4 separate regions of the Homo sapiens genome follow, and all the other regions are linked to region 4. The links come from fine-mapping of genetic effects on gene expression. A gene starts in region 4. Each other region holds a variant in brackets. All regions are shown on one strand. Distances are from middle to middle.

Region 1 (8,043 bases), 25 kb before region 4:
CCCACCCACCCCACCCAGCCACCAGGCCAGATTACCAGAGGTTTCCATAAGCCTCTCCAGCACGCTGCCACTCACTCAGGCTAGGATGCCCATTCCCTCCACCTGTGCAGTCTTTGCCATCTTTCCAGACCAGGTTAAACTGTCAGTGCTGCTATGGAGGCTTCCACCCCCACGAGCAGAGTGTTGAACATTAAAAACTCCTTCCTCTGTGCTCTCACAAGCTTTGCCCGTTGCTATGGACTGAATGTGTGTGTCCTCTCAAAATTCATAGGTTGAGGCAGAATTCCCTATCTGATGCTATGTGTAGGCGGGGCCTTCGGGATATGATTAGGTCATGAGGGTGGAGCTCCCCTGAACGGGATTCATGCCCTTATAAAAGAGACCCCAGAGAGCTGTCTCATCCCATCTGCCATGTGAGGACACAGTGAGAAGGCTGAACCACCAGACGTCAAATCTGCCAGTGCCTGGATCTTGACTTTCCGGCCTCCAGAACTGTGAGAAATAAGCGTTTGCTGTGTAAGTCACCCAATCTATGGTATTTTGTTAGAGCAGCTTGAACTAAGACATCATCCAAAGTCTATTGTTAGAGGTAGCATCACATTGTATGCTAATTAACTGAGCATCTTTTTTTCACTTTTCTGTCCCTAGCACCTAGCACTAAAATCTTGTGGAGTCAGGCAGCTCATGATAGTAATTCTTATTGTTTGAGAGTGTGTTTGAGAGTGTGTCATAAGTGTTTAGTTTTGTGGGCACTTCCTCATGAGTTACCTCATTTGAACTTCACAACAATGAATAGGCATTAGATGTGTCAAATGTTAGTACTGGAGGAGGTAAGTAGCATTTGAGGTCCTTGTGACTCTGCCCTTTGAAGACTAGGTTTGCCCAGATGGACCTGAAGGACTGGCCAGGCTCCCCAAGCCCATTTTCAGCTGGGCCAGACTCTACACCGTCCCTGCCTTCCACAGGCCTCCCTGTGCTCCAACCTAACATCCTCTTGTCCTCAGCTTCCCTCCAGCCAAACAGAAAGCCAGTGGGCATAGAGATGATGGTGATGCTCACCAGCTGGGGTGTAGCCTGCATTCTCTGTGAGTTAGTGCATGCAAAATGGCCAAAGCACTGATGAGAGGCCACATGCCACATTTTCAAATAAGAACCCAGAACAATTCTGCCAGTTTTGTGGAGGAAAACCCTGTTATACATCCCTGAGGCTGTACCCCCTGGCACTGGCATCACTGAAAAAGGGTGTGGAACAAAGGCACACAGAATGTCAGAGCCAGAAGGAACCTTAGAAATCACATTGCTCAACCCCACTCTAGACAAGGAAATGAGGGCCCACACTCAGGAGAGGCTTGTCAGAAACAGTGACTCAGTAGCAAAAAACACAGAGCGACAGCTGGCTCCTGAGCCCTTTCAGATGATTCCGATCCAAGCAAGAAAAAGGAACCTAAAGAATTTATACTAAAAGGAGGTCACAAAGGCCAAATTAATTGCAAGGCATACTTCAATTACACAGCACACAAATGGGCTTTAAATGCAACATCACACACAGAAAACATGTTATAAAGAAAACAATACAGAAGAATAACAGGACGATGTTCAGTAACAGTGTTCAAATTTAGTCACCCTGGAGGCCAGGCCATGCTACAACCCATGTTCTTCCATGACCTCTGCTACGAATGAATTGAGCAGGTAGAGCTAAGTCTAACACTATTTCTGCATTGTGTTAGTAGAATGCATTAACGTCAAAATACCACAGATTAATACTTTCTTTCATCCTCAGATAAAATAATTTATAGTTGTTCTAGTTGTTGGTGCTTAGTCAAATATTGTTGGTCCCCACCCCCGATTACACACAGAGGATGGTACTTCCTGGGTCCTTGTGTTGGGTGGAGTCATGTGGCTAACTTTGGCCCATTCGCTGAAAATATGAAGGGTTAATTTTATGTGTCAAGTTGGCCATGGGACCAGGTATTTGGTCAAATACCAGTATAAAGGTTACTGTGAAGTTTTTTTTTTTTTTTTTTTTTTTTAATTGAGATGCAGTTTCACTCTGTCACCCAGGCTGGAGTGCAGTGACGCCACCTCGGCTCGCTGCAGCCTCCACCTCCCAGCTTCAAGCGATTCTCCTGCCTCAGCCTCCCAAATAGCTAGGACTACAGGCGTGTGCTACCATGCCCGACTAATTTTTGTATTTTTAGTAGAGCTGGGAATTCACCATGCTGGCCAGACTCGTCTCAAACTCCTGACCTCAGGTGATCCACCCACCTCGGCCTCCCAAAGTGCTGGGATTACAGGCGTGAGCCACCATGCCCAGCCAGAATTTTTTCTTTTTTTAACATGAGATGAACACTTAAATCAGTAGACTCTGAGTAAAGCAGATTACCCTCCATAATGTGGGTAGGCCTCATTTGATCAGTTGGAGGCCTTCAGAGAAAATGACCGAGGTCCCCCAATGAAGGGAACTCTACCCCTAGACTGCCTTCAGTCTTGAGCTGCAACATCAGCTCTTTCCTGGGTCTCCAGCCTGCTGGCCTACCCTGCAGATTTTTGACTTGTCAGTCCCACAACCATGGGAGCCCATTCCTTAAAACAAATCCAGATATATGTAGAGAGAGATCCTATTGGTTCTGTTTCACTATAGAACACTGATGAACAGAAGCATCATTAGTGGTCTAGAGCTTTTAATTGTGAGGACCAGACTCCCTTTTCCTTTAGAACAGCAACTGCCAACATTGAAGACAGGGCCTGTTCTGCCAGCCTCAGTTCCTGAGGGACTAAAACAAGCAGAGACCCTCTGTTGATCCACTACCGACAGATAACATGAGTAAGAAATACACCTTTGTTGTTTTCAGTCACTGAAATTTGGAGATTGTGTGTTATTACGCATAATCTTTTACTGACTGAAGTGCTCATTGTTTATCTTAGATTTAAGACATTAGGGGGCAAGGAGAGAAACCCAGAAAAGTAATAGAATCATAAAAGGATTTTGATCCTGGCCTCCCAGAAAGACTCCCAGGCACATGGCCCTTCCTCCAGCTGCATAGTTTCCCTGTTGTGTATGTTGGGATCCTGGGAGTCTTAACCCAGAATCCAGCCACAGTTGTGTAAGTGCATCAAAGGTGCGATCTCACTGCTGAAACTTCCCTAGAAAATGTTCAGAGCTCTGCTGAGGAATCTGACCTGGGCCTAGGATGGGAAGCCCTCCAAAGAACAAAAGTTTCCACTACGGCAACAAGAATGTTAAACACGATTTTGAAAAACTTCTCAGCAAAAGAAATGTGATGATGAGTATTTATAAGCCAAAAACCAAAGGCCATTCCCTAGTTCCTGTGAGGTTTCCCGCCACACGGGGAGCGTTAACAGGACTAGAGACGGTACTGGAAACAGACCTGGATGTCCTTGGCTCCACTGCAGATGGGTTAAGTGTGGAGCCTTTGAGAAAAAGCAGTCACAAAGTGTTGATGATTCTCCTTGGAAATCAAGGGTGATCCAGAGGCTGCTGGGACTCCTCCATACCTTTCTTCTCAATGAATAAATCCAGGCCCCTGAACTTAAATACAGAGGTAAAGTGTGGGGTAGAATAAGATATAATGGACTTGAACTATTACAGGAACTATTTAGCTGAGACCAGCAGCTCTCAAAACTGGGGGTGGCTACCCATCACACCCCCTGCCCCCAGAGACATTTGGCAATGTCTGGAGAAGTTTTGTGGTTCTCGTAACTAGTAAATGTTACTGAGATCTACTGAGTAGAGGCTCGGGGTGTTAATAAGCCTCCTATATACAAAAGATAGCCCCCCCACAACCAAGAATTATGTGGCCTAGTATCAAGATTGAGAACCTGTGGCTGTGATCAAATCCCTAGTTATGAGGGTGTGAAGGTTTAGAACAAGAGCAGGAGAACATTTATAGAGCAATATGCCCCATTGCAAAAATAAATACATTGCAGTCAAACTGTGGGACCTCAGATAAGCAGTATCAGCATTACCTGTGAACATGTTAGAAATGC[G/A]CAGCCTTGGGCTCTGCCCCAGACTCCTGGATCAAATTCTTTCTCAAGTATTTACTAGAAAAAATACAACGTGTGATTCATATACCTATAGAGAAAAACCAAAACTATCACTAAAGCATCCTGAGAGGTAGCACAGTTCATGTCAGTAGGAAAAATAAATCTTCATTGCTACTCTTCTCCCTATGAGGGAGGAATCCAGCATGAGAATCAGGGTAGAAGGTCCATTCTTTAGAAGTTGTCTTTGGATTTGCAAAGTGAACTGAGGAGCAAAGTTGAGGAGTGGGGCTGGAGAGTAAAGACAGCTGAATTACTCAACATAATAAAGAGGGGGACCTGTTTGAGTGAGTTGCTTGTGAGCACCAAGGGAGAGAGGAGGAAGACCAAATGGTGTAACCTTTGGCCAATCTATTTTAGAATAAGCTTATCCAGTGCTCAATTCTGAATTGTTGTAATACAAATACCCTTGGTCTCCCCAGACCTCCATAAAGTTCACCGCATTCATGAAGCCTTGTGTAAACGGTGTGTGTGTGTGTGTGTGTGTGTGTGTGTGTGTAAACCAGGGGTATGGGAGTAATTCCACATCTGGGTCAACACAGTGCAGAAGAGTTCGTGGTTTGCATGACACCAATAAGAGTTAATGTTTCCTGTGAGCTTACTATGTGTAAGGCACTGTTAAACTGTGTTTAACAGACACAGTTTCATTGAAGGCTCACAGCTGCCCTATGGGGAATACCATGGTTATTTCATATTAGGGATAAGAGGTCTGCAGCAGAGGGAATTTATGCCACTTGCTCAGGGACACCCATACAATGAGTGAGCCTTAGAGACAGAATTGAAATCTCAGCAGTCTGGCTCCAGAGTTCATGTTAATTTCTGGGCCACCATGCTTGTCACCTAGGGGTAGTTAATAATCTTAACGAATTCAGTGGAAATAGGAACTCAGAGCCAGAGGTGATGTGAAAAATATAAGCCACCACCACTTATTTTGGAATCTCCAGACCAGCAGTTCCCAGGCTTCAGTGTGCACCAGGATCACCACGTGAGCTTGATAAGACACAAATCGCTGGGCTGCACCCCTAGAGCTTGATCCAGAAGCCTTGGGCAGAGCCCAGGGATGTGCATTTCTAAGAAGTTCACAGGTGATTCTGATACTGCTGGTCTAAGGTCCCACAATTTGAGAACCACTGCCCTCTGTTTGTGGCAGTGAGATTCAGCTAATTTATTCTGAATCTCAAAGACAGGGCTCCTCGGGTGACATCTGGTCACAATATCAATGACTGAGTGGCTCTGAATTGAATCAGGCTAATACTGAAGAGAATGGAGGAGGAGAGGGATGAGTATCCAGTGGAATTCAACCTGGAAAACTTCCTGGAGGAAGAGCCACGTGGTGAGAACAGATGCTGAGGTTACTTATTTCCTCAAATCTCCTTGATACACACTCCATACAGCAGGGCTCAGGCATTTGAGTTCCACAGAAATGGTGGGAGGGCACCCCTTGTTCTTTGGTGAGTCAATCCAGAAAGGCTTAGCAGAAAGTGAGGAATCAGGAGACATTCTCTTCCATGGAACTAGAAGCTGCCTAGGACAGTGGTTAGGAGAAAGATGAACGCGTTTGAATTGCAGCTCTGCTGCTGTGCCACATGGATCTTACTCCAGGTCCTTAGCTGTTCTAAACTTTAGTTTCCAAATCTGTAAAACAGAAAATCAGTTGTATGTGAAGTGCTCACCACAGTGCTCACCCAACGCCAACGCCAACCCCAACAAAGGCATCAGAGCTCCATCTGTGGCCAGGGAAACCAAGCCAAGGTCAAAGGGGAGGCTGGCTTTGTTACTGCTCCCAACTCACATAGGAGCTGGGAGGTTGAGGTTTAGATGCTCTTCATCTTCTGTCATTTAAAACAGGGTGTCTAATCTTTTGGCTTCCCTGGGCCACACTGGAAGAAGAAGAATTGTCTTGGGCCACACATAAAATACACTAGCACTAACGATAGCTGATGAGCGAGAAAAAAAAAAAAAGAAAGAAAGAAAAAGAAAACTTAAAAAAAATAAAACCTTGCAAAAATCTCATAACATTTTAAGAAATTTTATGAATTTGTGTTGGCCCTCATTCAAAGCCATCCTGGGCCGCATGCAGCCCATGGGCCACGGGCTGAACAAGCTTGATTTAAAAGATCCTCCATCCCACAGGGTATCAGCTGGTCTTTTAGGGCCCCTTTCCCCCAGTTCTCAGTTTCCTCTCTACCAAACAGTGGCCATGACCCTTTTCCACACCTCACTTGACTTATCTCCTCATTTACAAAGTTGGTAATACTAACCAGAAGATAAAACCACAATACAAAACTGTCTAACATCTGCACATATAATATGTATTCAACCATGCTTTTACAATGTATGTGGAGAGAAAAGACTGGAAACATTAACTGCCAAATGTTAAGTGACCTGGGAAGGCAGATTCTCCAAGTGTTGTTTGTGGCCAGGTGGGAAGCTGTGGGAAAGGGGGCAGAGGAACAGAAAGATCAAAGTCTCTTTTCAGTGCCCCGTGATGGGCTCATGAACTAATTTTATTTTTGTCTTCTGCTACTATGTATTTTGTATAATAAATCCATGTTTCTTTTATAATAAAGGAGAGAATTTTTTTTAAAAAAAGCAACTTCATATCCTCCTAAAGCTTTTCTTGATTATAACTCACTCCACACACACTCTGCTCACTCAGCTCACGTGCTTCCTCTTGGTGCCTGTCCTGTTTCTAGCCTATGAATTTGCATAACGCAGCCATAAGAGGTTGCTTTCTAAATGCTTTCGAGCAGATTTCCTATTCATTTACCTTAGATCTTCTGGTAAGCTGAGCTGCCCCAAAGAGGAGGGAGATGCTTCCTCCTAGTGGAAGAGCAGCCAGACTCATCGCCTATGATTCACCCCCACCCCAAAAACTCACTAGAGGGCTCTTCAAACAGTAAGTGGTCCATGCCAAAAGGAACTGCACAGAAAGTGGCCTGTAGGTGAGGAGAACTGTGTACACATACATACACACACACACGCACACACACACACACACACAATCTGCCTCTTCTTTCCTTCTCTCTCCAGAGGAAAATGTCATCCGGTTAGTGCCCTCAGATGAACTGGGAAGGCAAGCTCCCCGGTTGTGGTTTGTGAGGGGTGGGTGGCTGGGGAGGGGAGGTGTCAGGGAGAGCCAATCCACTTCCATCTGGCACTGAAATCTACACTTATTTTCCTGGACTGGACTACGATCCCCTTTCCCAATGTGAGGAATCGTGCTTTCTTGGTGACACACACTTTCCCCCAAGAATGCTTGGCTTTTCAATGAGGAATTCTTATATATTTGGGATTCTTGGAAACAGGACAAAGACTAATGAATTGCTGGCTCTATCCTAGGTTTGGAAACCCTCTAGAACTCACAGGAGCTGGAGGAGGACAGAGGCAGGCAGGAAAAGGGAGTTGAGGGTGTGTTTGCAACAGAGGGGAGGGTGGCAGGATTGAGATGTCAGATTAAATTGTTTGAGTTACAGGCACTCCAAAAGCTACCTGCTGACTCCACAGTCAGAGGTCACCATCCACACTAAGAATAGAAGGCTGACAGGGGCAGGGTGGGGAGGCGGGGGATACTGAGTGTTTGTGGAGGCTAGAGAGTTATAACAAAGCAGAATTCAGGTACAGTCGATTGTCAAGTTCATCATGAAGTGAAATGATTGGGGTACGGTACAGAAAGCACGGGTCTTAGGGTCAGGCACACCTTACTTGGAATCCCCTCTGTGCCACAAACTAGATGTGCAACTTCAGGAAAGTTGACTAAATTCTCAGAACCTCAGTTTCCTCTTCTATAAAATGGGATAATACCCACTTTGCAGAGCTGTTAGAATGAGATGTGTTGAAATGTGCAAGGGCTTAGCCCAGTGTCTGGCACCTAGTGAGCCCTCCATACATGGTAGGTATTATTTAGAGAATTTGAATTTGAAGAGTAGGAGTGTATAAAACCCTTCATAGGAGAACAGCTGCAGAAGGTCTGACTGCCGT
Region 2 (8,043 bases), 98 kb after region 4:
AACTTGTTAGGTCACATAGAAAAATGATCAGTCTAGGCCGGGCACGGTGGCTCATGCCTGTAATCCCAGCACTTTGGGAGGCCGAGGCAGGTGGATCACCTGAGGTCAGGAGTTTGAGACCAACCTGGCCAACACAAAGAAACCCCATCTCTACCAAAAATACAAAAAAAAGATTAGCCAAGTGTGGTGGTGTGTGCCTGTGATGCCAGCTACTTGGGAGGCTGAGGCAGGAGAATCACTTGAACCTGGGAGGCGGAGGTCACAGTGAGTGGAGATCATGCCACTGCACTGCAGCCTGGCAAAGAGAGCAAGACTCTGTCTCAAAAGAAAAAAAAAAAAAAGAAAGGATAAAGAAAAATGGTTAGTCTAATATTAGTCTTGAGATCTTTTTCAATGACAAGAGATGGAAACCCCCTGCAAAAGGGAATTTATTGGCTTACATAACTGGGAAGTCTAAAAATATGTTGACTTCAGTCTCAGTTTCCTCCATGTGGCCGACAGCACCAACCTGATAGGCTTATGAACCACGACCCTTAAGACAGGACATTGTCCTTTCTACTAGCTTCAGTAGAATTTCCATATGAGGATTCTGGAGTCACATCCCCATCCCCAGACCAATCACTGTCACTAGAGGCATGGAGCACTCTGATTACCTTGGCTTCCTCAACCTGATTGTCAGTCCTATCTGCACCATTTGGAAATAGGGAGAGGTTTCACCAAAGGACAGAAGTTGGTGATGCCAGAGAAGAGAGATAAGAAAACAAACTTGGCAGATAAACCTCCGCTTTGGGTTAATAGGAAAAGTAAACAAACCCAAATCAATTAGAAGATACCTAGGAGATATTTCAGGCTTGAGGACTTTTAGAGATGACTATAGAAAATAAAAAAGAGTAGGGCTTGTTCACATTTTGGCTGTACCTGTGGCATCTAACAATTTTTTTTTTCTAATTCTGCCATCTGTCTAACCATGGGAGGTTTACAGATACCTATACATTTTGAGTTGATTGTAGTTATACTAGATTTAAAAAAGAGCTAACATGTATGAGGTTCCTACTATGTTTCAGGCTGTGAATACTTTGAGATGTGTGTGTGTGTGTGTCCAGTATTTACACTGTACACACACACACAAACTTTGAGATACACAGACATACACAATATCTCAAAGTATTTACAGCCTGACACCTAGTAGGAGCCTAGTTTATGTTAGCTGTTTTATAATATATATATTTATATATTATATACTGTACACACACACACACATTCTAGTTGAAATCTGTGAGGTGTAGATTCATCAGTGAAGAAAAACTTAAGACAATAGTGACTTAAAGTCATAACCACTTACTATTTCACATACAAGAAACCTGCAGGTAGGCAGTCCAAGGCTGTATTGGCAGCTTTCTGGTCACTAGGGACTCAAGCTCCTTCTCCCTTGCCGTTGCACCATCTTTATCACATCAGCTTGTGACACAGGATGGCCGCTTGAACTCCAGCTCAATTATGCACCTTCTAGGCAACAGGAAGGAAAAAGTGGGAGAAGAAGTTTGGAGCCCCTCATTTTTAAAGAGAATGTTTAGTACTATTATTTTTAAATTTTAGATTCAGGGGTACATGTGCGGGTGTATAACATGGGTATATTACGTGGTTCTGAGGTTTGGGCTTCTAATAATTCCATTGCCCAAGCAGTGAACATAGTACCCAACAGGTAGATTTTCAACTCTTGTTCCTCTTCCTCCTTCCTCCCCTCCACTCCCCCTTTTTGGAATCCCCAGTGCTTATTGTTCCCATCTTTGTGTCTTTGTATACCCAATGCCTAGCTCCCACTTACACGTGAGAACATGTGGCATTTGATTTTCTGTTTCTGTGTTAACTCACTTAGGATAATGCTGCTGCAAAGGACATGATTTCATTCTTTTTTATGGCTGTGTGGTATTCCATGGTGTATATATACCACATTTTCTTTATCCAGTCCACCGTTGATGGGCACCTGTGTTGATTCCATGTCTTTGCCATTGTGAATAGTGTTGTGATGAGAATACGAGTGTGGGTGTCTTTTTGGTAGAATGATTTGTTTTCTTTTGAGTATATACCCAGTATTGGGTTTTCTGGGTCTAAAGGTCATTCTATTTTTAGTTCTTTGAGAAATCTCCAAATTGCTTTCCACAGGGGCTGAAGTAATTTGCATTCCCATGAACAGTGTAGAAAGATTCCCTTTTCTCTGCAACCTTGACATCTGTTATTTTCTGACTTTTTAATAATAGCAATTCTGACTGGTGTGAGATGGTATCCTATTGTAGTTTTGGTTTGCATCACTCTGATGATTAGTAATGTTGAGCATTTTTTATCTTGGTTGCCCATTTGTATATCTTCTTTTGAGAAGTGTTTGTTCTTTGTCCACTTTTCAATGTGGTTGTTTGTGTTTTTCTTATTGATTTCTTTAAGTTCCTTATAGATTCTGGATATTAGTCCTTTATCAGATGCATAGTTTACAAATATTTTCTTCCACTCTGTAGGTTGTCTGTTTGCCCTGTTGATAGTTTCTTTTGCTTTGCAGAAGCTCTTTAGTTCAATCGTCAATTTTTGTTTTTGTTGCATTTGCTCTTGAGAACTTAAGTTATAAATTCCTTGCCTAAGCCAGTGTCTAGAAGGGTATTTCCTAGGTTTTCTTTCAGAAATTTTATCATTTGAGGCCTTTCATTTAAGTTTTTAGTCTACTGAGTTAATTTTTGTATATGGTGAGAGGTAGGGGTCCAGTTTGATTCTTTTTCATATGGTTAGCCAGTTTTCCCAGCACCATTTATTCAATAGGGTATCCTTTCCCCATTGTTTATTTTTGTTAACTTTGCCAAAAATCAGTTGGTTGTAGATGTGCAGCTTTATTTCAGGAGTGTCTATTGTATTCCATTGGCCTGTGTGTCTGTTTTTGTAATAGTACTATGCTTTTTTGATTACTGTAGCCTTGTAGTATAATTTGAAGTTGGGTAATGTGATACCTCTGGCTTTATTCTTTTTGCTTAGGATTGTTTTGACTCTTTGAGCTTTTTTTTGGTTCCATATGAATTTTAGGATAGTTTTTTTCTAAATCTGTGAAAAATGATGTTGGTAATTTGATAGGAAAAGTGTTGAATTATTTGATTGCTTTGGGCAGTATGGACATTTTGGTAATATTGATTCTTACAATCCATGAACATAGAATACTTTTCCATTTGTTTGTATCACCTATGATTTCTTTCAGCAGTGTCTTGTCATTCTTCTTGTAGAGATCTTACCTCCTTGGCTAAATCTAGTGCTAGGTATTTTTTTGGTGTGTGTGGCTATTATAAATGGGATTGCATTCTTGATTTGGTTCTCAGCTTGAATGTTATTGGTGTACAGAAATGATAGTGATTTTTGTATATTGATTTATGTATTCTGAGACTTTGCTGAAGTCATTTATCAGGTCTAGGAGACTTTCGGCAGAATCCTTAAGGTTTTCTAGGTATAGAAACATATCATCAGTGAAGAAATAATTTGACTTCTTCTTTTTCTGTTTGGACGCCTTTTATTTCTTTCTTTTGCCTGACTGTTCTGGGTGGGACTTCCAGTCCTATGTTGAGCAGGAGTGGTGAGAGTGGACATCCTTGCCTTGTTGCAGTTCTTAAGGGGAATGCTTCCACCTTTTGCCCATTCAGTATGATGTTGGCTGTGGGTTTGTCATAGATGGCTTTTATTATTTTGAGGTATTCTTTTGATGCCTCATTTGTTGAGGGTTTTTTTTTTT[A/TA]CCATGAAGGGATGTTGGATTTTATTGGATGCTTTTTCCATATCTATTGAGATGATCATATGGTTTTTGTTTTTAATTCTACTTGGTGAATCACATTTATTGATTTGTGTATGTTGAATCATCTTTGCATCCCAGGAATAAGATCCAACTGATCATGGTGAATTAACTTTTAGATGTACTGCTGGATTTGGTTTGCTGGTATTTTCTTGAGGATTTTTGCATCTATGTTCTTCAGGGATATTGGCTTATAGTTTTCTTTTTTGTTGTGTCTTTGCCAGATTTTGGTATCAGGATGATGCTGGTTTTGTAGAATGAGTTAGGAAGGAGTCATTCCTCCTCAATTTTTTGGAATAGTTTTAGTAGAAATGGTACCAGCTCTTCTTTGTACATCTGGTAGAATTCTGCTATAAATCCTTCTGGCTCAGGACTCTTTTGGTTGGTAGATTTTTTTTTTATTACTGATTCCATTTTGGAACTCATTATTGGTCTTTTCAAGATTTCTGTTTCTTCCTGTTTCAGTCTTGGGAGATTGTGTGTTTCTAGGATTTATCTATTTTCTCTAGATTTTCTAGTTTATGTGCATAGAGATGTTCATAGTAGTCCCTGAGGACCTTTTTAAAGATAATTATTGACAGTTACACACACCACATAGAGCTCATTAGCCATAACTTAGTCACATGGCAATACCAAGCTGTAAGTGACTCAGGGAAATGTAATTCTTTTAGTTGGGTGACAGTGTACCCAATTAAAATCTGGGGTTTTGTTACTAGAGAAGGAGAGAATAACTACTGGGAGGCAGCCAGGCATCTCTCCCTCACACTTTATCTCCTAAGATATGCATCAAGCATTAGTTATTGAGCTGGAAGACCTTGTGACTTGAGTTAGGAAAGTCTTAATATCTCTGGATTTGTGCTACTGTGGTGCCCTTAACAGCTCTCTTCCTTTCCTTGTTTAAGGCCTCAGTCAGACGAGCTAAAACAAAGTGGCTCCTGGAGGATATTCTCATAGTACCAACCTCCCAGGGGCATATGCGTACATTGATCTGGGCAGCGCAGCTGTACGCCAGTTCCATGTGTGACCACTACTGAGTCATGCCCTTTCATTACCACCTAAGTGAATCCATTCTTCCCTGAGGGAATTGATAGGTGAGAGTTGTTTATGATAGTTATATTTTTGATGCTGAGAGGCTACTTCATTTCTATCCTAACTAGCAGGTGCATTGCTATATGACTTTTAAAAGTGAGGCTTTTTTATATTAAGTACAGTATACTCTTCTCTAATGAAAAAAAAATATGGAGGATAACTCTTCTGTTTCATCTCATGTATTGCAAATCCTTTAAGGACGAGTAAGAGTACAATAGGGTTGTTTATTAATTAACCATCAGTAAATTTATCAAAGTATAGGTATGGTAAAAATGTTTCTCCTTAGAAATTACTTGACAAAATAAGTAATGAATGGAGGTTCAGAAGTATCTCAATGATATAACCATCATTCTATCACAGTTTTAGCTTATTGAGGAAGTACTTGGCAACTTACCTGATGTTGTCAACCTAAGATTAGAAGTACCAGCAACAAGTGAGTGCAAAGCTTCCACAATGTAATTCTTCCTGTGCGTGATTCTGAATATCTATTATAGTGACCTCAAACAAAACCAGACTGCACAGTGTCTCCATGTGACCATCATGTTATGAAAAGAATAGCAATATTTACTTTGGGGAAAGTTAGGTGATTGTTTAAAAGTGAGTACAGACAAGCTGATTTTCTTTAGTTTTAAGTTTGAGCTTTTGTTGGTTTCTTGCTCTACCAAAATATTGGAAGATAAAAATGAGAAGAATCAGGGCAGGGGAGACAGGTTTGTTTGCAAGTTCTTTATTGACCAGGTTGAGATGTTCTGAGGATGATGATTTACGTTTTTTCTGTACACAGTAAAGAGTTATTTCCTGAATGCTGAAGAATCTATGTTTTTGTTTTTGTTTTGAAACGGAGTCTCGCTCTGTTGCCAGGCTGCAGTGCAGTGGCGAGATCTCAGCTCACTGCAACCTCCGCCTCCCACGTTCAGGTGAAGAAATCTATGTTTTTATCTGGAGTAGTATCTTCCAAATGTTTTCCCTTGTATTGTTAATTAACACGTTAGTCTTGATTTGTTCCTTTTGGTTTGTTTTTGTTTTTTAATAGAAATGTATCCTGTATTCTGTTAAATTGGCCACGGTGTTACACGGTGACTGTAAGAAGTGAGAATTCATATCTCATTTTCTATCTCAGTCCTACAGGAACTGGATCAACCCAGCAAGTCTGCAGTTCCCAAGGTCTTCAGGATGAGGCACCAGTGCAGTTATGTAGTATTTTTCCGCCAAAGTGATATGTTTTAAACTGACAGATTTTCATTGTTCCATTTGATGCTAATATTTTCTTCTAACAATAGCTTTTCTCTTAATGATGCCTTTTACTTATGTAAACATGTTTTTCTCATAAAAACTTAAATAGTCATTTTGCTTTTTATTAATGGAATCACCACCAAGCAATCTTTATAAGATTGTCATTTATATGGCTACATTAAATAACACAGTTCTGTTTTCATACATAGAAATTCTAATAATATAAAAAATTATGTAGCCAAAAATATTGAAACATTTATACATGAAAAGCTTGAGTCACAGAAACCTAGGGTTGAAAGGAACTTCAAGGTCTTTAGCCTTCCTCCAAGAAATATAACTTACAAAAGTGAGCAGAAGTTTTTATATATTCACTTGCCCTTAGGCTCTTAATTTAACTCCACACTGAGCATTTTCGACACTGACTTGTTTTGAGAAAGGTTATCATAAGGGAGCTTTTCCGTTTCTGCTACCTCAAATGCGTGTATCTTTTTTCTTAGCCTTTCTTCCTTTACTCTTCTCTCAGAAATATTTCTCTTTACTATCCTTACTACATGGAGCTTTGTTTCCAGCTAAGTTTGCTTTTTTCAGAAGTTTATCTCCTAATTCAGTTCCAACCAGGGTTGCCAGATTTAGAAAATGAAAAATATAGGACTCCCAGTTAAATGTGAATTTCAGATAAATGGTGAACACGTTTTTAGTATAAATATGTCCCAAATGTTGCATGGGTCATACCCATAAAATTATTCATTGTTTCTCTGAAATTCAAATTTAACTGTATTTTATTGGACAACCCTATGTAAAACCCTTATGCCTGCAACCTTGTCTGTAAATTTCCTTTGCTGAAGTTCACATCTCCATCAGTGCACTGAACTACGCAGAGGACACTCTTCTGTGGCTGCATTTTCCTCTGCCTGCAGCCATTTCCATCTGGATCCTGCTCTGTTCTCCCCTTGCTGGTTTCTCAGCTTACCTGCAGTCCCCCATTGGCCACTCTTCTTGAGCTGTCTCCTGTTGGTGGCACAGCAGTGTTTATTATGCTTGACACTCCTAGGTTACCTTGAGTCCTCCTTTACTCTTGTCCTGGACAATAACAATTCCTGTTCATTCTTCTTCCGCAGGGGGATCTTTCCCTCCTTCCCTCCTCATCTTTACTTCCCCTTCCCCTTCTCCCTCCTGTCTGTCCCTGCTTGTCTGTTCCCTACACTGCCCTCATTCAGGTTTCTGCCCACCCACTTGCCCACCCAGCCTCCTGCTCTAGACACTCCCTGTCCAGGCCATCTTGCACTGCCTGGTTAATCATTCAGAAATATTGTACCAATTCTACTCTTTCCCTCCTTCAGTGACTTACTATTGTCTGCAGAATGAAGTATAAGTTCCTTATTCAAGGACTCATATGCAGGAACTTTCCAGAATTGTCCTCTTCCTATTTCCCTAGTGCCATTGACATCGTTACTTTGCATCAGTGCCTACCACCCTTTCCGATACTCTCACTCTTTCACTATAATATATTATTGAAAACTCCCTTCGGGAAGTTTTAAATTATGTAATCATTTGGCATACAGATAAAAGGAAGCATTATTTTAGTTTATATCACTGTATTAGTAAATGTTACATTATATAGTTTATCCTAATAAAATGTAATAATATTCACATTATATAAATAGCAAGAAATGTTTTGACTTTTCCCTATTTAGCAAATGACACACACTTTCTTGTATTTGAATTAATTAGATAATTAAAAATGTGATTTTTAAATAAAATTTAAAATGGCACCTTTCATTATGTTTGGCTTCATAACCAAATATATACTGAAATGTACATTATTGTTAACCTGTACTGACTGGGTGCGATGGTTGACACCTGAAGTTTTTAATTCCGGCACTTTTGGAGGCTGAGGTGGAAAGATTGCC
Region 3 (8,043 bases), 38 kb before region 4:
TTTCCTTTTTTTTCCTTTTCTTTCTTTTCTTGTACACTTCTAATATCAGAGCTAAGCCAGGACCTTGTTTTCCCTGGGAAAAGAAGACTGATAGCTTCCAGAACAAAATGGTGCATAGAGGGAGGAACAGTTGATACAAGGTAATGATGTCTCCTCTAGACAGGACAGGGCAATAGAAAACCTTTATAGGCTGTGCGTGGTAGCTCAAGCCTGTAATCTCAGCACTTTGGGAGGCTGAAGCAGGTGGATCACTTGAGGTCATGAGTTCGAGACCAGCCTGGCCAACATGGTGAAACTCTGTCTCTAATAAAAATATGAAAAAACTTAGCCAGGTGTGGTGGTGCACACTCATAATCTCAGCCACTTGGGAGGCTGAGGCAGAAGAATCACTTGAACCTGGGAGGCAGAGGTTGCAGTGAGCTGAGATCACACCACTGCATTCCAGCCTGGGCGACAGAGCGAGACTCCCATCAGGAAGGAAGGGAAGGAAGGGAGGGAGCAAAGCAAAGCAGAAGAAAAGGAAAAGAAAAGAAAGGAAAAGAGAAAAGAAAAGAAAAAGAAAATCTTTCTAGTACTAGGAGGAAAAGAAAGTAAATGCCCTGGATTCCACTTCCTTCCCCACCTCCAGAGAAGAGAGGAGGGGGTGGTTTGCAGTGTCATTAGAAATAACTCAATGACTTGGAGAATTTCAGAATAGGGTGCAGGGTTGGGGAAAGGTCACGTGGATAAACCCTGCCTAAACCCAGCTCTGAGCAAACATGGCTGGCAACAGCTGAGGAAGTTACCTGGGGGCTGCCCTCGGGCCCACCCATTTAGAACCCTCACATCCCAGACCAGCCACTGGACACCTGGGCCCTCCAGGAGTGGGTGGACGTCCTGGCAGAGCCAGGAGCCTGAGGAAGACCTAAGCTTCAGCAGTGGGTGCCAAGTCTACCCTCAGAAGCCCTGGGGACCGGACCAGACCTGGCCCCTTCAATGGAGTTCAGCACAGAGGCCCAAGCAGCAGAGAGAGCAAGGTACAGCTCCGTGGAGAACTGCAGAAACCCTGCAGCCCCCAGGCCCTTCCCTGGTCACCAGGAAAATACTGGAGCTTCCCCAGGAAGCCAGACCATTCAGGGGAGGGGCACTGGGAGCTGCCCTCACAGGAAGTTTGAATTTTGACTTGATGGGACCTCGCTCCAAAGCAACTCATTTAAATCAGAGACTAAAGTACCTTTATTTTTCACACTAAGTTTTTCATTGAAAATTATCCATTATAAGAATCAATTACTTTTTCCTGCACAGCTGAGTGTCGTTATTCATGTTCGCTGCCCAGTTTAGTAAGTCTTCAATAAATATGAGCTGCTATTATGTCATCAATCATCATCACCACCACTAAGTGGGTTATTCCCAGATAGACAAAAGGAAGGGAAGAAGAGGACAAGAGCAAAAAACAGTCCCACTTTTGTTTCAGATCTGAGTCCTCGGAGGGCTCAGGGAGGCTGGCTGGCATAGGAGGAGAGGGGAGAAGGGGAGCCTCTGGGACCCCCTCACTGGGGAGCTCATCCTCTCCTTATTTGACACAAACTAGTCAAGCCCCACTTTCACCCAGGTTTAACTGCAACTGACCTGTCGGCCCCTCTACCCTTTCCTCACCAAGGGAGCTGCAGAGGAGTGAGCACCAGTGCACCTGCCTCCCTAGCGTACCTGTCCCCCCAGTACACCTGTTCCCCCAGTGCACCTACTCCCTCAGTACACCTGTCCCCGCAGTGTACCTGCGCCCCCAGTGCACCTGTCCCTCCAGTATACCTGCCTCCCCAGTGCACCTACCCCCCAGTGCACCTACCCCCCCAGTGCACCTACCCTCCAGTGCCCCGGCCCTCGCACTGCATCTGCCCCTTCAGTGCACCTGCCCCCCAGTGCACCTGCCCCCTCAGTACAACTGCCCCCTCGGTACACCTGCCTCCCCAGTGCACCTACCCCCCAGTGCTCTGGTCCCTGCACTGCACCTGCCCCCCCCCAGTGCACCTGCCCCCTCAGTACACCTGCCTCCCCAGTGCTCCTGTCCCCACAGTGCACCTGCCCCCTAGTGCACCTGTCCCTCAGCGTGCCTACCCCCCAGGCCACAGACCTGGACTGTTCAGGTGGGGTCTTACAAGCCTCTTGACCTTCCCACCCATTTACTGTCTTTGTGGCCCTGGCAGAGGCCACACAGAGGTTAAGAGCCAGAACTCAGGAGTTAGACTTCCTGGGTGCAAATCCTAGAGCTGCTTCTTATCTGCTGTGTCATCTTTGGCAAGTTACTTAACCTCCCTGTGCCTCAGTTTCCCCATGTGAAAATGAGAATAATAATAGTAATCTGCCTCAAAGATTGTGGGGATTAATTGTGGGGATTAATTTAGTGAGTCAGGTACAGTGATTAGGGTAGCACCAGGCACCTATTCAGCACTAAGTGTGAATAACTCACACCCTCTCAGTGAGGTCTTTCAAGGGCATCTGAAATAGCAGCCCCGCTCCCAGCACCTCCCATCTCCCTTCCCTTCATTTTCCACGTAGACTTACCACCACCTGACAGACTATACATCCCATGTATTCATTATCCCTCCCACAAGAATGTATATTCCATGGGGCATTTTTGTCTATCATTCATTGCTGTATCCGCAGTGACTAGAATTACTACCTGGTACATAATAGGCCCTTGTAATAAAGAAGGAATATATGAAACTTACTAACTGTGTAGACTTAGGCAAGTTACATAACTCCCCACATGCCTTAGTTTACTCATCTGAGAAATGGAGATGATGCCCACACCCTCACGTTGATGTGAAGATTAAATGAGGCAACATTTGTAAATATGCCCACTCCGGTCCTTGGTACATGGTCGACCTGAGAGGACCAGTTTCTGCCTGATGGAGGAAGGGCCTGAAATGGTTAATCCCTGACTCTCCTCCCCCATGCAAAGCTGGTCCGGACTGCAGGGCCACTGGCAGCTATCCAGGTGGAGGCTAAATGTCAGAGGTGTGTGCCTGCAGAGCTGCCCTGGTCCTGATGCAGTCTTGACCCAGGCAGCTGGAGCCCCTCGCCACCCCCTCCTGCTGCCTGGGCCTGGAGCATTTGGGAGTGCAGGAGCAGAGTGGTGGGAACCTCCGCAGGCCTGGGTCCCACGCCACATCCTGGCCTTGGGGGAGGTGGGCCCAAGGCCTGGACTTGCTTCCCAGCTATTCCCAGGCGGCCCTCTCTCCTGCTGGCCCAGCTGCACTGCCTGAGCCGGAGGGCCACAGGGGTAGGTCTGTCTGTCAGCATCACTTGTCCCCACTCACGATGAAGAAGACGCAGGCCTCAGCACAAGCACAGTCTGGACTCAGAGCCCCACTCTGTCAGCCCTGAAGCCCACCTGCCTCCCTCCCTGGGAGGGAGTGCGTGGAATGACAGTCACAGAGGACTCACCGGACCCCAGCGACTCCAGCCTGTGGCTTCCCAGATTTCTCCAATTTCTCGCAATGCCCCAGCTTTTCAGCAACTTCTCTGAGAGTCATGCCTCTCCATGACGGACCCAGAAAAAGATGAAAATAGATAGACACAGGCTTCAGTGTGAATGCTGAAGATGAAATAAATGCAGTCCAGCATTGCCCCAT[G/A]GGCATCCACTCCACAACCATCTATGAACCCCCACTCTGGGCCAGACACTGTGCACTGTAGGATGCGGCAGTGAATAAAACACAGACCTGATTGTAAAAATCTCCCAGTCGGAAAGGGGGTACAAATGTGAGCAGGCCGGGGTAGTGGGCAGAAGTATCTTGGTGGAGCTGTACAGGGAATGATGAGAGTATGGATGAAGGGTCTCTAACTCAGCGTGGGGAAGGAGGGAGCATGAGAAATCTAGAAGGGTGGTACCAAGGTGCTTCTGGCCAGCAACAACTTGGGGGAGAACAGAGGAGCTAATAAATGGAGAAATGATATTTCCCACCAAGGGGCCGGCTCAGAACGGCTCTGGGGAGGGTGCCAGCTTCAACTCCCATCCTCCCAATCTTCAAGCACTTTTACCAGAAACTAAGCCCTCTGAGGGCAGGGACCAGGTTCAGTCTGCATCCCTAGAATGAGGACAGGCATATATGGCAGGCACTGAGTAGAAATGTCTGAGTGTGCCAATGAATAAACAAACCCCTGAAGGTAAGATCACTACTGACCCAGGGACATGTTGCTTTTTTGTTATCCCACAGACATTAACATAAATTTCTATTGCCCAATTTCCTCTTGGTAAGTGTAAGAACCCTCACAGGCTATAAACTCTCCAACTGGTGCCAAATGAGGTATCACTCAGCCTCCAACACAAGCCTCTTAAGAGGGAACCAACCATGGGGTTCTGTCCATCACCCTGAGTGCTGCCAGCCTCCCCATCGATGGTCACCACAGTCACACTCCTTTGGTACACCCTGGGAAAAGCCGCAAGAATCACACACCACTGAGGATAATGGCCAGAAAGTCACTGCCAATGTTTGTGGCTCAGTATTTACAGAAAAACAGGATCATTCTGTGCTTGCTACCCACAACCAGTCATAGGCGCATGTGCAGGCCCATCCACACACCCTGTGTGGAACACACAGCCCGCTCCCCAGGCCCCTGCCATCAACAAAAGTATACAAAGAAGAGATGCCAATTGGATTTATCTGTTTAAACAGCATCCCGTGAAGCTGGTCCCTGGGTGAATTATCCAAACAGTAACCATTCTTGCTTCTTTCTTAAAGAAAAACTGTAGAGAGCATAAATTCTCCTTGCATCTCTGCTATTCATTCATGCAGCCAATATTTAATAAGGACCTACTATGCGTTAGCCCCTGCTAGTGGAACTGTGCTATGGTTTGCATGTCTGTGTTCCCTCCAAAATGCATATGTTGAAACTTAATCTTTGTTGCAATAATACTAAGGGTGGGGCCTTTTGGGAAGTGATTAAGTCATGATGGCTCTACCTTCATGAATGGATTAGTGCATTATAAAAAGGCGGGAGGCAGAGGCGGGCAGATCACAAGGTCAGGAGATCAACACCATCCAGGCCAACATGGTGAAACCCCGTCTCTACCAAAAATACAAAAATTAGCCGGGCATGGTGGCACGCACCTGTAGTCCCAGCTACCCGGGAGGCTGAGGAAGGAGAATCACTTGAACCCGGGAGGCAGAGGCTGCAGTGAGCTGAGATCGCACCATTGCACTCCAGCCTGGCGACAGAGCAAGAATCCGTCTCAAAAAAAAAAAGACGGAGGGGGGTGGAGGGAATTAGCTTAGGCCCTTTTAGCCCTTCCATTCCTTCTGTCATGTAAGGACACAGTGTTCTTCCCCTCCAGAGGAAGGAAAGGAACACAGACATGCAAACTATAGCATAGTTCCACTGGCAAGGGCTAATGCATAGTAGGTCCTTATTAAATATTGGCTGCATGAATGAATAGCAAAAATGCAAGGAGTACCTATGCTCTTTACAGTTTTTCATTAAGAAGCAACAAAACACCACCTTAGGAGCAGAGGGCAGCCCTCACCAGACAACAACTCTGCTGGCACCTTGATCTTGCACTTCCCAAAGTCCAGAACCATGAGAAATGTTGTTTTGGTTTATAAATTACCCAGTGTGTGGAATATTGGCACAAATGGACTAAGACATACTAGAAATGCAAAACTGAACCAGTCAGGGCTTTGCATTCTGGAAGCTAATAGTCTAGCGAGAGTCAGACAGAACAGTGGTTTTCAAACATTGTGCTCAGTGCTTCATCAGGGACAGGCCTGTGGGAGCACAGGTGAGAGGGAACCCTACTACCTGAAATTGGTGGGGAGGAGGAGGCGTTAGAGAGACTTTGTAGGTGTGGTGATTTTTGGGCTGAGTCTCCAAGGACAGCGAGGCGTTCCCCAGGTATGAGCCTTCAGGTAGCAGGGAGGGCAGGAGTTAGAAGTGTGAGCGGCAGGGCAGGCAGAGCTTGGGCAGCTGGCAAGATGACCCAAGAAGTACTCCAGGGCTCAGACATGAAGGGACTATACCCCTTGAATTCTGAAACTGGGTTTGTGATTTTCCAGATTCCCCTTTGGTCCATTAAGAGAGTTCATTCTCAGACCAAGGGGGTCAAGGGGTATCACACTTCACACAAAGACAGAGACCCTGAAGAGTAATCCAGGCATGAGGACCCCAAGGAAAAGAGTCAGGGAGAATCCTCCAGCCACTGTTTCTGAAGCCCAGGCCCCTGCATCCTACCAGGCCCGGGGGCACCTCCATGAGCCCACACACACAGAGCCAAGGCGTGAGTGAGGGCCACCATTCCCTGGGGTGGTGAAGCACCATTCCACAAACCCAGACCCAATAATCAGACTCTGAAAAAGACTACCCCCGCCCCACTTCAGCTCCTGGATAGCTGTGCCTTCCCCTCTTGAGATGTCACACTCCCCACCTGTGTGCAAATGGACTCAACTCCTCCTTTCTCCGACATGATCTGCAGGACGCCCCTCATACAGCTGCTGGCATGCACAAGACGTTGAGAATGAAGGTACTACCATTTAAAGACCGCTTTACAGGCGAGAAACTGAGGCCCAAGAAGCAGGCTACTTGCCTCAGGACCCACAGCAAACTCATGCCACAGCCATGTCTAGAACCCAATTTTCGAATTCACAGCACAGAACTCTTCTCTCCCACTACAGAACAGTCGCAGACAAATTCTGCTTTGCTTCCTGGTTTCTCCTGAGTTTCTACTTAAGTGGAAACAACAACTACAAAAATGCAATATAAAAACAAAAATTAAAAATTCCAAAAATCTTAGCCAAGATTCATTCATGAATATTTCCCCTAAATATTGTGAGCCCTGCTAGGATCCAAGCTACACCGCCTCTCTCTTTAAATATTCTCAAATACTCCAGGAAACTGATTCCCAACTTCTCCTGATTTCCTCACCTCAGATTTTCTCTTTGAAGCTTGAAGGGTACTTAGAAACTTCTCTTTAAAAAGAGAAGGTGCTCCTGACAGTCATTCCAAGACATTTGGATTTGCCAAGTTGAAGTTACAGAAACCTGTGACTATGCATACTAATTATTATTATTTGCCTACCATTAGTATGCTTTTTCACATTTCACATCTGATTTTTTATGTACATTTTTCTTAATTTTTGTGTGCAAACAGTCCTAATATGAAGTGAAAAAAATCACTGGCAAAAGGAGAAAAGCAAACAAACTAGCCTGGTGTCCAGGGATTCAAGAATTTCAGGAGGATCGTGAGGCAAATTGGATATGTTCTCCAGGAAAGGGGAGCTATTGGGCATATCAGCTACACAACCGATCACCTGAGGATTCCACTGGAAATGAAAAAGAGAGAAAGAGAAGGAGTCGAGAGTCCCCCAAAACCCTAAGTGGCTTCTCCCCAGCTTTAGGACACCACAGGGATGCTCACCTTTTAAGAGACTTGCTTTCCTAGAATAGCCCCAGCCCCTCACTTTGGGATTGTGCTGTGAATGACAAAGTACTCATGGCAGGGAGCCCAGAGAGTTCCAGCAGGTAAGGAGAAGACCCTCGAAAGTAAAATAAAAAAAAAATCTGCTACTAACTGGCAGTTATTTGAACTAGTTATACCAGAGACCAGGAGCAGGCCGCACAATCGCTTCTTCCCCAGGGCTCTTCTCCTAAGCTGAGAAGATGCCAGCCGTGTGTTTATCATTTCTCCCCACTATCTTTTAAGGCAGCCACATCCCAAGCCAGCAGGCAGAAGCTGGACCAAGACACATGTCCAATGGGGAAGGAGGCCAGGTTCACTGCACTAGGCATGAAATACGCCTTATCTCATATTTGCCAACACACCTGCACCATGGGGACACATAAAATGTGAACCTCATTCCCATTTCCCATTAGAAATTAAGAGATTCACAAAGCCCAAATAATGTGTGCTGGGCCATTTAGCAATGATAGAGCAGGACTGGGTCTCCCTCCAATTCCATTCTACCCAAGAGGTACAAGGACCACTGCATGTAGTGTGCAGGCTGTGAACTGCAAGAGAATCCCACATCCAAGGAGATACATGAGCCCACCCTGCCTGCAGGGCTTGTACACC
Region 4 (8,043 bases):
CCCTTTATGAAGGGTCTTATAACATTCTGAGCTCTGTTCTTAGTTCTTGTGCATAAATGTTTTCATAATGACCTGGGGAGGGAAATACTATCCTTATTTTACAGATGAGGAAGCTGAAGCTCAGAAGGAATAAGTCATGTAGCCCAGGTTACTAATTCGTATTTAGGTCACAGTTCTCTCTCTCCAGGCAGCTGATCAGAAATCTGCACTCTTTCCATTGTTGTCGGGCTGCCTCTGAAGTCTAGGGCTGAATGACACAGGATCCTTGACAGAGTCTCTGGCTGTTGAGATCTAGAGGGTCATCCGCTATCAAAGCCAAGGATATCCTTCAACTTGTTCTTTCTGCCAGCTGTGTTTGCCCTCTGGACCTTCAAGGATGTCTTGGAATGCATCCCATCTACTTAATCTAATCTCAAAGATGACCAAAGAGCTGGCCAGAAGATTGAACTGATAGAATGAGCCATGAGAAGGCTTCAATGTCAGCCTAGGCATCCATGGCCTGGGAATTCATCCCGGCCATAGTGAAATGTCTCCTAGTACAAGCCCAGAAGCATCAGGACTCCACTGATCCCACATGCAGCACTCCCAGAAACCCCACATGTAGAAAGAGTTGAAAACCCAGTTCTTGCCCCTCACCTGTCCCTGAGGAGTTGTATGCTGGGATAAGAGTATTTCTGGGAATCCTGTTCCGAGGGGTCCCTTCTGTCCCTGGGTAGTCTTCTATGTTTAAATAATGGAAATGAATGAGAACATTTAAACTTGTTACTTCCATTGGCTCTAGTAAAATCAAATAAGAAAGCCTCATCTTTCATTATCTCTATGCTTTCTCTACTGCCTGTACTTACCCTTTATCTTCATTCTTTACACCTGGATCCAAGGCTCTTTAGTAATGGGGAGTTTAATCTGTTTTGCATCAAAAACTTTGGAGACAGTCGGGAAAGAAGACTGGGGAGAGAACATGTTCTCACAGCAAGCAGTAGTATTTCAACTTCCTCCACGCTCACCAAAAACAAAATCATTTACAGGCCTTCCTATTGGTCTTGCCTGCACAGCCTCCGCCTTCTTGAGCCCCTGACTCTCTAAGTTCTAATGCCCAGGAGAATGTTCTCTCCTCTTTTTGTCCTGATGGGGGCACGAGTATTCCCTCAGCATCCGAGGCGCTGGAGGAAAAGCTCTGAAAACTCAGCTGGGAGTTAGGAGCCAGAGTTTGCAACTACCAGGGAGCAAGACAATAATAGCACAGTTGTTTGCATAAAGGAAGAAATGGGGGTTAGATGGAGTTCCCAGCACAGATGAAGAAATAGACCATTTATCCTCCCATGTCTAAGGCCATGGCCATCACCACACAGTCATGTATGTGTAAAAACACATAGGCATGTGCATCTCATGGGGACCAGTCACTCCTGTTTACATGCACCCTTGTTTACATTGCCTATGGGATGATTTCCTCCTCCTTCATTACACTTCAGTTGACAACGTACTCCTGAAGTTAAATGAGTCTGTTTCTGACATTGCTGCCTGCTCCATCTTTTATGGAGCTTCCCTGGGGTTCAATTTATATAATTTCTAAAATCCTTCCTGAATCTTAACTTCCTGTGGGTCTGTTTTTACATCCAGATTTCCTCCCTGTCCCTTCATTTTCTCATTTTTCTAGGACAGAGGGAGAGTCCAGTAATCTTCCTCCCACCCAGACATTGTAGGTTGGCTCTACTGCAAAATACAAAACCAGAGACCTGGCTAGCTCAAAGCTGAAAATTCAGTCTGTCTGTGGTCACTCGTTTGTGGAACCCAGCTATTGACAGGCAGTGCCTGGCACTGTGCTACTCAGGGATGATGGATCGATACAGCCTCACTGCTGCTTTTTTCCCCTACTCTCCGTGGAGCACACTTTCCGCCCTAGGCCCTAGGGAAAATCCATCCCCCGCTTCAGCTGGCTTTGCAAAGAAACTCAGGAAACTAACACCAAACTCAGAAGGGGGAAAACACAAGACTTTGAACTTTTTAAAGATGGGAAGCTGCTTTCATTCCCACGTGGGCATCAAGGGAAAACCTATGGGGACTCTTTTCCGGAGAGGTGTGATTTTCCTCTAACCCTCCGAGAAACGTTCCAAATCCACTCCAAAACTGTGGAGAAGTGGCCGAGGCAGAGAGAGAAGAGTTAAATCAAGCCCAGATCTCAGCAATCTGTGTTCAATTTTGATAAAAATCTCCCTCTCCCCCACCGCCCCCCTTCCTCCACCCCACAGCTCAGACACGTCTCTTTATGTTAGGAGCTTGCATCTTGTTTGGGGCACCACACGCGGCACTCCTGGAGAACCTGGCACGTACCTCACCGTGGCCATGTGGCAGAACCAACCATCCCACTCCCAAGCTACGGCTGGACACAGGGCCACAGCGTCCTGGCCATCACCACCACCTCCCCCTCTTCCTTCTCATCCTCTTCACAAAATTACCTGCCGCCAGACCAAGTCCCTCATTCCCCGGTTAAGTCAGAGTCCCGACGCCTGGTAAAGTCAGGGCATGAGGTTGGTTTGCGACCGCAGGTGCTGAGAGCCCCAGAGTCCGGGGACCCCTTTCCTGAGATGCTCCTTCCCCCGCCCAGGGTCCCACTGCCACTGAGAACAAGAACCTTACGGCTGCCCTGCCCACTGGCCAGAGGCCAGGCCTGCAAGTGGGAGCTGGGGGCTTGTGAAGACTTCAGCCCAGCCAAGTGAAGGTTCAAGCCGAACCCGGAAAAGCCACCACCAAAAAGTTGTCAGTTTTGCGGGGTATCTTCTGTGTTTGTCCACTTGTGACAACCAGGGGTCAGGTTTCAAAGCCGCAAAAAACATTTTTAAAAAGTTTTCCAAAGACATTTCCTATGTCCAGATGTGCCAGTACAGACACACGCAATCACACTCATACACACACACAACTCACACACACACAGGCCCTGGGAGCCCACTCCGGGGTCGGCGGCTCCTGCAAACACTTTGGAGAAACAAAACCGCCAGCCTGCGGAGCTGCTGCCTCCCCAAGCCCCGCGGGGCATGCTAAAGAAAGCAGAGGGAGAGAAGTGTGGGAGCCCAGCGGAGAGGGCTCCCCGCGGCCCGGGCCCCAAGACGGGGAGCGCCAGGGCCGGCCGCACTTACTCCGAGGACCCCAGGGCGCCCGCGCTCCCGCAGCCCGAGGTACGGCGCCGCCGCCCGCGCTCCGCTCGCTGCTGCGTGCTCCGCGCTATCCCCGGGAAGCCGCGGCTGCCGCCCCTCCAGGCCCGGCCTCGCGCCCGTCCGCCCGCCCCGCTCTGACGTCAGGCGTCTTGGAGCGGGATATTTATGGCAAGGTTACTCTGAATTTTCCCTAGGTAGACTTCTGATTGCAGTTTCTTGGGATTTGTAATTTTCACACTTTCAGACCGAACGCAGGCGGGGGGAGAGCGCCACCGGCAGGGCGAGGCGTACAATGAGGGTAGCTGTTCCCCACTTTGGCAGGGAGCGTTCTCAGGGCCCCTTCTGTTTTGGAAACATGGAAGGGTCAAAGAGGCAAAAGTGGCCACCTGGGCAGCGGGTTTCTCCCCGGCTCCTCCTCTGGGCTACGGGCAAATGGCCTGGTCTGAGGCCGGCTCGGAGGTGAAGGTCCCGGTGCCAAGGAATCCCCTGTCCCTCCCCAAAGTGTCCCTGCACTGGACAGTGTGTCCCAAGGGGTGCTGGGCAAGACAGGAGCGAAATCAGGCACAACAGAACAGCTAATTAGGAGTCCTGGTCCACGCCCTAACAACTTTTCCATTTCTTTTTTGGGAGTGTATATATATTTTTTTAAGTTTATTTTTATTAAATTATGTTCCACACTCCCTGCCTCTGTATAGCTTTTCCAATTCAGTGCCAGTCAATTCATCTTACTTCATTGCTTGTATGCATAGTTTGAGCAGTTTACAATAGCTCTTATTCATACTTTTAAAATTTCCTTTTAGTTTTTTTTTTTCTTTTTTTTTTAAATGTGATTGTGGTCTGTCTCCTTGACTGAACTAGAGATTGCTTTGGTCAAGAGCAATTGTCCTCTCTGGGATTGGCAACACCCTCACGGGGAGTATTTGATCTTCTCTGTTTCCTATTTTCCCCAGCTCCCTCTGCAAGCAAATGGTGCCCCCACTGGGTGATGACCTGTATACAGTTTTCTGGGTGTTCAGTGGTTGTTCTGTGTTAGTGGTTGTCTGTTTCTCCACCTCACCAAAGGGGCTTAGGGAAATGGCTTGGTTTAAGGGCCACCCTTCCAGAGAAAAAAAGAGAATGTAATGCATGATCTTCCAGAGGAAAAAAAAAAAAAAAAGAGAATGTAATGTGTTATCCTTCATGGTTCCCAAGGATTGGAGAATGAAATGAACTTAAAATGATACACGTGAGATGCAAAATACTTATATGGTTAGACAACATAAGTGTTTAGGTATTCATCTCACCATGAATGGGAGGGGGCACGGATAATTGCAAATCATCATTAAAACACAACTATAGTGAACTTTCCATTAGCCCAAACTGGTAGAGGCGGGGTTGTGTTTTAACCACAGTTACAGTGCAGCAGGGACTCAAGGACTTGGAATGTGTTTACCTCTTTGGCAGCAGCTGGTTAGAGCTGATTGCCAGAAGGAGCTGTCTTAGGGCTGGGCCTCTCGGTAGAGGCCACGCTGTTTTGACCCAAGCCACCGAGGGCCCTGCAGCAGGGAGCTGCTGTTTGGTCACTGTGGGATTGCTCTCCCTGGCATAATACCCCACTTTTACCTCCTTCCATTCCCTCTCTCATATCAAGGCTCCACTGGCAAGGTGAGCTCTGTTCTTCAGCAGACCCTGCAAATAGGTTTCCAGAAGCCATTGACAAACCCATTCTCCCTTGCCTTTCTCAACTAAAGAAGTTAGAAATCTACAATATTCACCATCCCAGACTCCCTGGTAGCTCACAATTGCTATGAGACCAAGTTCTGACCAGTGAGATTGTAATACAGAAGACAGAGGATGCCTTCCACAAACTCTCTTTAAGAGAAGATCAGATTTGGCCAGGCGCGGTGGCTCACGCCTGTATTCCCAGCACTTTGGGAGACCGAGGCGGGCGGACCACGAGGTCAGGAGATCGAGACCATCCTGGCTAACACGGTTAAACCCCGTCTCCACTAAAAAATACAAAAAATTAGCCAGGCGTGGTGGTGGGCGCCTGTAGTCCCAGCTACTTCGGAGGCTGAGGCAGGAGAATGGCGTGAACCTAGGAGGCGGAGCTTGCAGTGAGCCGAGATTGCGCCACTGCACTCCAGCCTGGGCGACAGAGCGAGACTCCGTCTCAAAAAAATAAATAAATAAATAAATAAATAAATAAATAAATAAATAAATAAAAACACAAAAAAAGATAGGGCCAGAGACTCAGAGGTGGCAGGTTGGGGACATCATGAGGACAGAAACAGGGGAAGTGAGGCTGAGGAGCAAGCATTCTAGGTCTGGGAGAGGGGAGTCTCTCCATCCTTGCCCAAGTGTTTTGGAGGCAGGGTCTCTCTCTGTCACCTAGGCTGGAGTGCAGTGGCACGATGATAGCTCACTACAGCTTCGAACTCCTGGGCTCAAGGGATTTTCCCACCTCAGCCTTCCCAGTAGCTGGGACTACAGGTGCATGCCACTAGGCCCTGCTAACCTTTTTTTTTTTTTTTTTTTTTTTTTTTTTTGTAGCGATGTGGTCTTGCTATGTTTCCCAAGCTAATCTCAAATTCCTGGTCTCAAGCAATTCTCTCAACTCGAGAGGCCGAAGCGCTGGGATTACAGGTGTGAGCCATTGCGCCTGGCCCCCAAGCATTCTTAATTGGGTTCTATTGGGATGAGGAGCAAGTGAAATTCATAAAATACGTGGCTGTCAGTGCTGAGGAGCTGTTTTTGAGGTTGGCAAGCCCTGAAGAGTCCATGAAGTAGTAGGGCCCACTCGAAGATCATCTGATTCACTCCCTACCCCCAGCCCTATCACTCACAGGGTCCTAATGTGGGAGTCTCTCCTATTCTCAAGATTCCCAAGAAAGGGGTTTCATCCTTCTTCACCTGCATATTCTAGGAATGTTCCCGGAACATACAGTGAGGCCCTCTGTAGCACACTACTCATCTGGAAAATTGTACCTGCTTGATGAAAGATTCTCAAATAGCACATTATGGTTGACCTGGCTTCCAAAGCTCACTATATACTTCCAAGGCCCAGCCTATCATGATAAGAAGCAGGCTTCACAAAAGTCACTTGCTCACTCTCCAGGGGTAGAGATCCTAGTCTAGTACAGCATGGACCACAATAGCACTCCATAAAGACTTTCTGAAGAATAAATGAAGGCCCCATGAATATGTCATCTAATCAATATGTGACTCTCCGCAAATAACATATACCTTTCTCTGATTTACTATTGTGGACTATAGCAAGTGTTTGAACCAAAGACCTTGGTTAAATCCCAGCCCTGCCTCTCACTGCTGTGTGACCTCAGCATGGCAGGAAACTTTCTCAAGCATAGTTTTTGTGATGGTTAACTTCATGTGTCAACTTGGCTGTGCCACAGTGCCCAGATAGTTGATCAAGCATTATTCTGGATACTTCTGTGAAGGTGGTTTTGGATGAGATTAATATTTAAATTGGTGGACTTTGAGTAAAGCTGAGTACCCTCCATAATGTAGGTAGGCCTCATGCAATCAACTGAAATTCTTAATAGAACAAAGACTGACCCCCACCCCGCAAGAGGGAACTGTGCCAGCAGACTGCCTCAGGACTCCAACTGCAATGCTTCCCTGGGTCTCCAGCCTGCTGGCCTACCCCTGCTGGTCTACCCTCCAGATTTTAGACTACCAGGCCTCCATAATTACATAAGCCAATTCTTTAAAATCAGTCTCTCTCTCTCTCAATATTCATATACTACATCCTGTTGGTTGTTTCTCTGAATCTCCTATTAGTAGGAGAATCCTAAAAAATACAGTGTTCTTCAACAACAACATGGGATGAAAATTATTCCACCCTAAAGTATTGTTGTAAAGTTCAAATGAAGCAAAATAAATTGAAAGCCTCTACCTCAATAAGTTCTTCTGAAACTTGGAAGGAAAAGGATGCCTCAAAATTTCAAAGTCTTTTTCATCCTACCACTTATGTGGTCAGTATCAATCTGCTGGCTCTTAGACTCTGTTCAGGGAGGTGTCAAACTTTGTTATCAGGTGTGCTGTTAATGCCTAGAAGGCAGAAGCAACTTGTCTTGAACTGGACCCCATCCAGCACAGACACATCACACTTCAGGTATTTTGATCATGAGCCTGATCCTGGGGCCTATCCTGCTTCTGTCACTTCTAGTAAGGGATACAACCTCCACTGTTCAGGACAAGACTCCTGGACTTCTATTATCTCACGGTAACTTCCAAGGATACAGCTAAAGAGAGAAAAAGCCCATGGCTACCACAATTTCTTCCTGAAAGTACATACTTATCAATAGAACATGAACTGCATGTCCCAACAACTTGAAGATATTTTAGGTCCTCATTGTCATGTGGTAGAAATGACCCCAGAATATGGCATGAGAAAAACCTGGTTTCTAATTCCAGCTCTGACTCTTGTAAGTAAGAGCATCATTTCACTTCTCTGCAAAATTCAGACTAATAGAAGGACCAATCCCATGGTGCGAGAGTAAGGATTAAATTGCAGAATATTTGTACCTTACAGATGACCACTGTTCTTATATGCCTTTTCTTCTCTTTGCCCTCTTTCCTACCTCTATACCCACTCCCTCCACCCAACACACACAGCTCCTCTGTTAGTTAATTTTAAGAATGTACTCAACGTTAACGTACAGGTTTCTGGAGTCCAGCTTTCTGCAAACCTCTTTCTTGGAGTTAAGAAATCTCCCCTGGCTCAAGCATAACCACAGCAAATAGGCAGCAATCAGAAAATTGCCCCCATAAAGGCCATCTCCTCCTGAGGAGCAGGACTGCATTTTTGAGAAGCCTTCTCAGGTTGTTTGCAGCAGCTTTGAGGGTCGGCTCTGCTGCCTTGCCTACGTCAAAACCCCAAGTGTTTAACCAC

Evidence for each region. PIP is the estimated chance that this variant, and not a neighbour inherited with it, causes the effect. A credible set is the group of variants that fine-mapping cannot tell apart.
Region 1: its variant is the best candidate, but not a certain one, in a credible set for the expression of DAAM2 in whole blood (INTERVAL, PIP 0.54).
Region 2: its variant is the best candidate, but not a certain one, in a credible set for the expression of DAAM2 in whole blood (INTERVAL, PIP 0.89).
Region 3: its variant is the best candidate, but not a certain one, in a credible set for the expression of DAAM2 in whole blood (TOPMed, PIP 0.71).

What each region holds. Positions count from the first base shown.
Region 1 is chr6:39,812,170-39,820,212 of GRCh38, reverse strand. The region is part of intron 1 of DAAM2 (dishevelled associated activator of morphogenesis 2); the gene reads right to left. It overlaps LOC124901487 (a long non-coding RNA gene), which reads left to right and starts at 402. Exons shown (of 2, transcript XR_007059917.1): 1 at 402-516. The variant G/A (reference allele first, on the strand shown) is at 4,009.
Region 2 is chr6:39,689,840-39,697,882 of GRCh38, reverse strand. The region is part of intron 3 of KIF6 (kinesin family member 6); the gene reads left to right. Among named protein-coding and RNA genes, the nearest start is that of KIF6, 32 kb to the left of the region's middle. The variant A/TA (reference allele first, on the strand shown) is at 3,758.
Region 3 is chr6:39,825,753-39,833,795 of GRCh38, reverse strand. The region is part of intron 1 of DAAM2 (dishevelled associated activator of morphogenesis 2); the gene reads right to left. Among named protein-coding and RNA genes, the nearest start is that of DAAM2, 37 kb to the right of the region's middle. The variant G/A (reference allele first, on the strand shown) is at 3,615.
Region 4 is chr6:39,787,554-39,795,596 of GRCh38, reverse strand. It overlaps DAAM2 (dishevelled associated activator of morphogenesis 2), which reads right to left and starts at 3,221. Exons shown (of 25, transcript NM_001201427.2): 1 at 3,132-3,221.